2 separate regions of the Homo sapiens genome follow, and region 2 is linked to region 1. The links come from fine-mapping of genetic effects on gene expression. A gene starts in region 1. The other region holds a variant in brackets. All regions are shown on one strand. Distances are between the middles of the regions.

What was found.
Region 2: its variant is fine-mapped to the expression of TOLLIP-DT in testis (GTEx, PIP 0.98).

The regions. Positions count from the first base shown.
Region 1 is chr11:1,307,698-1,312,072 of GRCh38, forward strand. TOLLIP-DT (TOLLIP divergent transcript) reads left to right here and starts at 2,011. Exons shown (of 1, transcript NR_029409.1): 1 at 2,011-3,010. TOLLIP (toll interacting protein) reads right to left here and starts at 1,935. Exons shown (of 6, transcript NM_019009.4): 1 at 1,769-1,935. The coding sequence starts at 1,801. RefSeq lists silencers at 1,391-2,100, 3,626-3,755 and an enhancer at 2,331-3,092.
Region 2 is chr11:1,285,997-1,290,301 of GRCh38, forward strand. TOLLIP (toll interacting protein) reads right to left here. Exons shown (of 6, transcript NM_019009.4): 3 at 4,231-4,305; 4 at 2,628-2,780; 5 at 6-96. Among named protein-coding and RNA genes, the nearest start is that of TOLLIP, 21 kb to the right of the region's middle. The variant G/T (reference allele first, on the strand shown) is at 2,221.

The DNA.
Region 1 (4,375 bases):
TGGCTGCCACGGCAACTTGCGGGGACTCACTGTGGTGGAGTAAAGATGAAGAGGTAGAGACGCTGCCATCAGAGGCCGTCCAGGACCTCTGCCGACCCGTAGGCTCCACACCTGAGTCTCATAAGTGTCAGGAGGTTTCCTTCAAAGTCCTCAGAAAAAGCAGCTATGCCCAAAACCTGGGGCTTCATTCTAAACTCAGAAAAAATGTTCTACCTGAAGAATTATCTCCTCGGGAGAAACACCAGGACTTGTGGATACAGTGTTAAGGGTGGGGAGCCCTGGTGACCCCTCCACCACGTCCAGTACTGGGCTGCGCGAGGGCAGGGACCTTGGAGCATCGTGAAAAAGGACTTTTTCCACCCACGGCATGTTCAGAGCCACTGTTGATAAAAACTGTACCGCTCACGACAGCCTGCCCCAGCCCAGCCTCAGTGAGTGACACGGTTTGAATCTGTGTCCCCGCCAAATCTCACGCTGAATTATGATCCCCAATGTTGGAGGTGGGGCCTGGCAGGGTGGGTGTGTGGGTCACAGGGACAGATCCCTCGTGGCTTGGTGCTGTCCCGGTGATAGTGAGTTCTCACAAGATCTGGTCATTACAGTGTGTGGCACCTCCCCACCCCCAACTCTCTTGCTGCTTTCGCCATGTGACGTGTAAGCTCCCACTTGGCCTTCCGCCATGACTGGGAGCTTCCAGAGGCCTCCCCAGGAGCAGATGCCGGCACCATGCTACCTGTACAGCCTGCAGAACCGGGAGCCAATTAAATCTCTTTTCTTACAAATTACCCAGTCTCGGTATTCCTTTACAGCAATGCAAGAAGGCCCTAACAGTGAGCCAGGAGGCCACTCACGCCAGGAGCCCATCATCTCTGAGTCAGTCTACACCAGCTCTCCTGCAATATTAATGCTATAGAAGAAACTGCCAGGCAACTCTCAGGAGAGAATTCAGAGCAGGAAAGGTTCTCTGAAGTTCCTGGCGCCTATCCTCTCATTTGCAAATGAAGAAACTGAGGTTTTGCACGGTGGCCACTAACCGGGGACACAATTGGGCCCAAGAAGTGGTCACCACTGCCCTCACTCTGTGTAAATGAGAAAGAGGAAACAGCCATCATCTATGGGACCAACTAGAGTGCAGGCCCGCCTCCACCTGGGGGGCCATCAGGGTGCGGGACCCGCCTCCACCTGGGGGGGCCATCAGGGTGCGGGGCCCGCCTCCATCTAGGGTGCCATCAGGGTGCGGGACCCGCCTCCACCTGGGGGGCCATCAGGGAGCAGGGCCCGCATCCATCTAGGGGACCATTAGGGTTCAGGGCCCGCCTCCACCTGGGGGACCATTAGGGTGCGGGGCCCTCCTCCATTCGGGAGTCAGAGCTCGGGGCCGCCTCCATCTGGGCACCGGGCCCTCCTCCATCTGGAGACCATTGGGGAGCGGGGCCTGCCTCCCTCTGGGGCACCATGGGGCACGGGGCCCGCCTCCATCTGGGGCTCACAACGGGCGCAGGCCCCCTCCCCCGGGGCTGCCTCCCCAAAGCTCTGCCCCGGCACGGCGGTGAGCTCAAGCCTCCTGCAGCGTGGGCGCGTCCGTCCGGCCCGCCCCGCCCCGAGGTGTGGACGCCGCCGCTCCCCTCCGGCCGGCCAGGCGCCCCGCGTGCCCCGGGAGAGCCGCGGAGTCGGCCCGCCAGCCGCAGCTGAGCAGTAGCCCTGACCCAAGGCCCCGCCCGCAACCGCAGGTCACCGCCCCCGCCCGACCCTCGCCCGGCTGCCTCACCGGCCCGCGCTGAGTGCTGACGGTGGTCGCCATGGTGCTGCGGCGGCCCCCGTGGCTCGCCGACCCGACAGTGACGCGCCGGGCGACCTCCTGCGCCCCCGCCGGAGCCTGCGACGGAGACAGTTGTCACCTCGAGGCCGCCGCCGCCACAGTCAGCTGACAGCCGCCGCGCCCCGCCCCCGGCACCGCCCCACTGCGCAGGCGCCGCGCCAGGCACCGCCCCTTCCGGCTCTCGCGCGCACGCGCGCTCCAGGGTAGGGCAGGCGCAGCCTCTCGCCCGGCGCCTGCGCACCTGCTCTCTCCTCGAGCCCTGCAGCCCGGCGAAATGGCTCCCGGCGGGGCCGTTTGCGCATGCCCAGTCATGACGGTTGTCGGCGCGGGCCCTAGCGTGGCGGCGCTGCAGTCTGGGCAGTGGGTTGGTTCCTCCTCGGTCCTCTGTCGAGTGGCGACAGGGCCTAGCCACCTGGCGGGGGTGACCTTCGGACGTGCGACCCGCTCGGAGAAGGGAGGGAACTGTGGCCCGCAACAAAGCAGTGACAGGCCCGACATCCCCTGCAGGGCGATCTTTCCCTCAGCTGCCTGCCGGAGGAAGGGCCTTTCTGTTTCACAGGGCTAAAGATGGGGCGCGGTTCCTCCACGGGGCGGCTGCCGGGTGAACGGAACGGGGATGGAGGCGCTGCCAGAAGAGCCCGAGCTCGAGCCCGCCCTGCCCTCGGCCTCCCCGCCGCGCCGCTCCGCAGGAGCCCCGCTCCTCTCCTGCTCGCTCCGGAGAACCCCAGTCCGGCCTGACCTCGGCCCTCGCGGTCAGGCGCTCCAACCAGAGCGACTCCAGCTCGAACAGCGCTGGGTAAACTGAGGCTGAACCCCGCTGGCTGCATCCCCAGGAGTCGGGCGTTTACGGTCACGGGAACAGGTTAATAAACTTTTACGCAGCAGACCCGGAACTTAGGTCCCGATGTCCGGGTATCTTAAGAACAAGAAGCATTCTTAGTTGAAGTTTCGCTTTAAAGATAATGATACAGATGCTTGCGGAGGACAGGCGTTATGCAAAGATTGGCAATCCTTTGACGAGCCCAGGTAGTACAGCACGTCTCCCCCGTGATGTTTTTTGGCTTTTATCTTACATATAAACAAGCGTACCCAGGTGGACGCCTTCCTCCTCGTGCTTTTGGGAACACCCTGCTCTATGGAGTAGCCATTCTTTTATTCCTTCACTGCCTTAATAAACTTGCTTTCACTTTACTCTGTGGACTGGCCTGGAATTCTTTCTTCCACAAGATCCACGAATCCTCTTTTGGGGTCTGGATCAGGACCCTTTTCCGGTAACACAACCACTCCACTAAAAACTCTTTGTCAGTGATCTCTATATTGTTAGTGGTCAGTTCTCAGTCCTCGTCCTCCGGGAACTACAGCAAAATCGATAGTCATTCTTGCTACACATGCTTTCTTCACTCCCCATCCAGGACACCATGTGCTCTCACTTTCCTCTTATCCCAAAGACCACATCTTTGGGTCTCGGTTACCAGTCTCTCCTTTTAAAACCGGCAGCCTGGCCGCTTGCCTGTTTTGATGGGGTGTAGAGAAAAAGAACGAAAGCCCCTTCCTCAAGTTGTAGCTTAACATCCAGCCAATCCACAGCACAAGACCCAAGAAGCTATTAACCACAAGTTCCTGCTTTGGGGGCCTAGGGACTTCCCCGGGCCCCACATGTGCAGTTAGACTTATACTTCAACTATTGTTACCCCTTCCTCATTTTCACGCTAAAAATCACACCTAGGGGTAGAGATTTAAAATGTGAATGTTGCATGCAATGCATGAAGAAGCATGCAAAGCTACTGAGAAGCACTAGACAAACCCCTCCTATCCATGCCTGGACCAATCCCTTCCCTGTGAAACTAACCCACGTGCCACCCCCTGGCGGCGGGGCCCCCCACCGTTTTCCTTTCATGGTGCTGACTTCCTTGTGCACAAGCTAAATAAAGATTTCTCTTTCTCCTCGCTGCTATGTCTGCTGATCTCTCTTTATTTCTATCCTGGGAGATTACAAGATGCCAGGGCACACTGGTAACACTTTGACTCCTTAACATCGGAGTGCCTTACCTCAGGGCTCAGTCCTTGCACATCTTTTCTATCTACATCCTCAGTGAGCTCATCCAGTTCCATTCCTTTAAATGCCATCCATATGCTGATGATCCTAAAATCTGTATCTCCCACCAGGACCTCCGCTAAACACTAGATTCAGCTCTTGCCTTAATATTATTCCCCTATGGGGTGGACAGGTTGTAAGGTAGACATATGATCCCTGCCTCCTGGTGTTCACATCCTTGAATAATCCTCTTGTCTTGAGGGTGGACAGAGCCTGTGGCTTGCTTTTAAACAACAGAATATGGCAGTGGTGATGGGATGTCCCTCCCATGATTACCTGATGTTATAAAAGACTCCATCTTGCTCTCAGACTTATTCTCAAGGGTCTCTCAGCTGCTGGCTTTGAAGAGGCGAGGTGCCATAATTCCTACAACTTCAAGGAAACAAATTCTGCCAGGAATCTGAGGGGGCTTTGATCCTTCCCCAGTCAAGCCTCCAGATGAGAATGCAACCCAGCTGACA
Region 2 (4,305 bases), 22 kb before region 1:
CGCACCTGTGATGGGCACATAGCCAACGCCCTGCTGGTACACTGTTGGCATCAGGACCACGGGCTGGGGTGGCATCACCATGGCAGCTGGAAGCAGCTGAAACACAGCGGAGATGGTCCCGGGGTCAAGGAGGAACATCCACCCATCAGAACCTCGGGAATCGCCCTCCCCACAATTGCCCTCCCCACGCCAGCCCAGAATCGCCCTCCCCATGCCAGCCCAGAATCACCCTCGCTACACGAGCCCTGAGTGCACAGGGGACGCTGGGCCCTGCTCCCACCCCTGCACCACCTCCTCAAATCCAGGAGGTGACATGGCTCGGGCTTACAGACCCCCTTCTAACTGGGATGTGACTGAGAGAGGATGGTGACAGGAGGGACATCCCAGTGTAGGTGTCGAGTCGGCCTGGGGGGAACCACACTGCACTGCTGTGGTGTCTGAGTTTGAAAGTGTCAACTTCACATAAGTCACTGCACTGCTGTCAACTCTGAGTTCAAAACTGTCCACTGTGGATAAGTCACTGCACCACTGTCACCTCTGAGTTCAAAACTGTCAACTGCGGATAAGTCACTGCACCGCTGTCGTCTCTGAGTTTAGTTCAAAACTGTCCACTGCGGATAAGTCACTGCACTGCTGTCTCCTGAGTTCAAAACTGTCAACTGTGGATAAGTCACTGCACCGCTGTCATCTCTAAGTTTAGTTCAAAACTGTCCACTGTGGATAAGTCACTGCACTGCTGTCTCCTGAGTTCAAAACTGTCCACTGCGGATAAGTCATTGCACTGCTGTTGTCTCTGAGTTCAAAACTGTCAACCGTGGATAAGTCACTGCACTGCTGTCGTCTCTGAGTTTAGTTCAAAACTGTCCACTGCAGATAAGTCACTGCACTGCTGTCTCCTGAGTTCAAAACTGTCCACTGCGGATAAGTCACTGCACTGCTGTTGTCTCTGAGTTCAAAACTGTCAACTGTGGATAAGTCACTGCACCGCGGTTGTCTCTGAGTTCGAAACTGTCAGCTGCGGATAAGTCACTGCACCACTGTCGCCTCTGAGTTCAAAACTGTCAGCTGCGGATAAGTCACTGCACCGCTGCCGTCTCTGAGTTCAAAACTGTCAGCTGTGGATAAGTCACTGCACCGCTGTCTTCTGAGTTCGAAACTGTCAACTGCGGATAAGTCACTGCACCACTGTCGTCTCTGAGTTCGAAACTGTCAACTGCAGGTAAAATCACTGGAGCGTCATGATGGTTCTGTGTTTGTATGAAAGCGTCTGTTAAAGACGTGTCATGAGACATTTACACATCGTCACTCACGGCCGGGACATGATTTAAAATATCCCAGCTTTAACAAAAAGGGGGTGGGAGGAGCCAAGATGGCCCAGAAAAGCAGCTCCCTGCTGCTGCCTCCCCGCCGCAGCCTCCCCGCCGCACCCTCCCCGCCGCAGCCTCCCCGCCGCACCCTCCCCGCCGCAGCCTCCCCGCCGCACCCTCCCCGCCGCACCCTCCCCGCCGCAGCCTCCCCGCCGCAGCCTCCCCGCCGCAGCCTCACCGCCGCAGCCTCCCCGCCGCAGCCTCCCCGCCGCACCCTCCCCGCCGCAGCCTCCCCGCCGCACCCTCCCCGCCGCAGCCTCCCCGCCGCAGCCTCCCCGCCGCACCCTCCCCGCCGCAGCCTCCCCGCCGCACCCTCCCCGCCGCAGCCTCCCCGCCGCAGCCTCCCCGCTGCACCCTCTCTGCCGCAGCCTCCCCGCCGCAGCCTCCCCGCCGCACCCTCCCCGCCGCAGCCTCCCCGCCGCACCCTCCCTGCCGCAGCCTCCCCGCCGCAGCCTCCCCGCCGCACCCTCCCCGCCGCAGCCTCCCTGCCGCACCCTCTCTGCTGCAGCCTCCCTGCTGCACCCTCCCTGCTGCACCCTCTCTGCTGCACCCTCTCTGCTGTCACATCTGCCTGGCATTTCCCACAGCACCATTTTTCAGTAACAGCCTGAAAATCCTCTGGTTGATGATACAGACGAGACGGCAGGAGCTCTGCGTCTTGGAGCCTCTAACTGGCCCTCCTGATGCCCCCAGGAGCTGCAGGTGCCCTGAGAATGGAGATGGCTGGGAGCCAGGGCGCTGACGTGCTGGCCCCACAGCCAGGCCTCGACTTCCTGACCCTGAGCACAGCAGCCCCCAGGCTTCCCCGACATCTCCAGAGATGCCCTGCCACACCACGGCCAATGCCTGCCCT[G/T]TGGGGAGGAGCCTGGTGTCCTGCAGGGCCCAGGGCTGTATCTCAGACCCTGGAGGGCTGCTCAGCTGGACCCTAAGGGCAGAGCTTGGAAGGGCTGTGGGGGTCCTCCGAGGACACAGGGGCCTGCAGTGGAGACCACCACAAAGGGTTGGCTCATCTTAGGAACACAAACAACCCCTATGCTGTTTCCCCAGACAGAGAACATGGGCAGGAGCAGTGGGCAGGGCAGCCCCTCTCTGCCACCAAACCACCCAGGGCCCCTGCCCTCTGTCCTCAGAACGTGAGCCCTGCTGTTTTATGGGCTCAGTGCCTCCAGGAAAGAGACAAGGGTGTCTGTGGGGCGGCATAGCCCCGACGTGCTCCAACATACCCCAATGCGCCCCACCCCGCCCAGGCGTGCAGCTCACCGCGTAGGACATGACGAGGTTGATCATGCCCTCCTTGTCGTCCCCCTGCCTCCCGCTCAGGCTGTACCACTTGTCCTCCACCTTGCCCTGCCTCAGGGACTCCGGGATGGTGATGTGGGTCCAGGCAATGCGGTCGTCCATGGAGAAGGCTCTCTGCGGGAGACAAGAGGGAGAGGCCCCAGGCATCAGGGAAGGGGCCACCCTGCCCCTGCAGCCGCACCATCGTGGGCCCGCCTCGAGTCCCCGTCTTATCTGTGGAACAGGGCTCCCACCTGCACCAACACCCCATCGATGAGACCCCTCGGGCAGCGCAGGCTTCACGATCGTATATCAGCCTCCGTAGGGGACTTCTTCCCTCTCTCCACCAGGATGGGCCAGGGCCAGGGCCAGGGCCAGGTCTGGGGCTGGGGAAAGCGAGGGCCCTGGGCTGCTGTCCTCCTTCAGTTCCACTTCAGGGACACTGGCTGCTCCTCCCCAGCCCTCGGGGCCCCATCCTTGCTCCACCGGCTGCCACCTGTCAAGCCCCAGAGCAGCCGGGGTGCAGACTGGAAAGGACACGGGGTCTGCCTCCCACAGCTGACTCTGCACTTCCCATGCGCTCTCTACTCTTCTGAGGGCCAGGGAGGGGAAAGCAGGTAGGGACGGGGAGAGAAAAGCCGGGAGGAAAAGGCAGGGCCCAGGCAGGGAGGGCTGGCCGTCTGCTGGCCTGGCTGCCCCACACTGCTCCCCGGCCCCCACCCAGTCTCTAGCCTCACAATGCCACAGGTGCGAGGTGCCAGGACCACACTGAGCAGCAGCCTCGCCACATCCCCTCTGACCTTCTGACTCTGCCTCAGAAGCGCTGCAGGTGCAGCCACGGACGGGACTCAGGACCCTCAAGGGTCACGACCATTCGCACCACCAAGAACAGCTTTCCCACCCAGTAGGCAGCCGCACTCTCTGGAAATCCCACCTGCTGGTGAGCGGCCGGACCCTGTGCGCCCAGCGGGGCGGACACATGCACGCTCTGTCCCTGGAAATCCCACCTGCTGGTGAGCGGCCAGACGAGTGCCCAGTGGACACGTGCACACTCTGTCCCTGGAAATCCCACCTGCTGGTGTGCGGCAAGACCCTGTGCGCCCAGCGGGGCGGACACATGCATGCTCTGTCCCTGGAAATCCCACCTGCTGGTGAGCGGCCAGACGAGTGCCCAGTGGCGGGGGACACATGCATGCTCTGTCCCTGGAAATCCCACCTGCTGGTGAGCGGCCAGATCAGTGCCCAGCGGAGGGGACACGTGCACGCTCTGTCCCTGGAAATCCCACCTGCTGGTGAGCGGCCAGACCCTGTGCGCCCAGCGGAGGGGACACGTGCACGCTGTATCCCTGGGTCATGCTTGTCACTGGGGATGTTTCCAAATGTAAGTATGTTCAAGGAGCTGGAAACAATCCCTTTTTCACATTCCTTGGGGAGAGCAGGACCCTGTCATGCACCCAATGAAACACCAGGTGGGGAGCCACGCCTCGAAGCCAGCCAGGAACGTGGCTGTGTTGGCAGGTGTGTCCCCACGGCAGCCACGCTCAGCCACGTGCAGCCTCCATAATAGCTGGCACGTCCCTCTCACCTCATCGAAGATCTCGAGATAGAAAGAGTCCACGCCTGGGGGCACCGTGCAGTGGATGACCTTATTCCAGCGGGG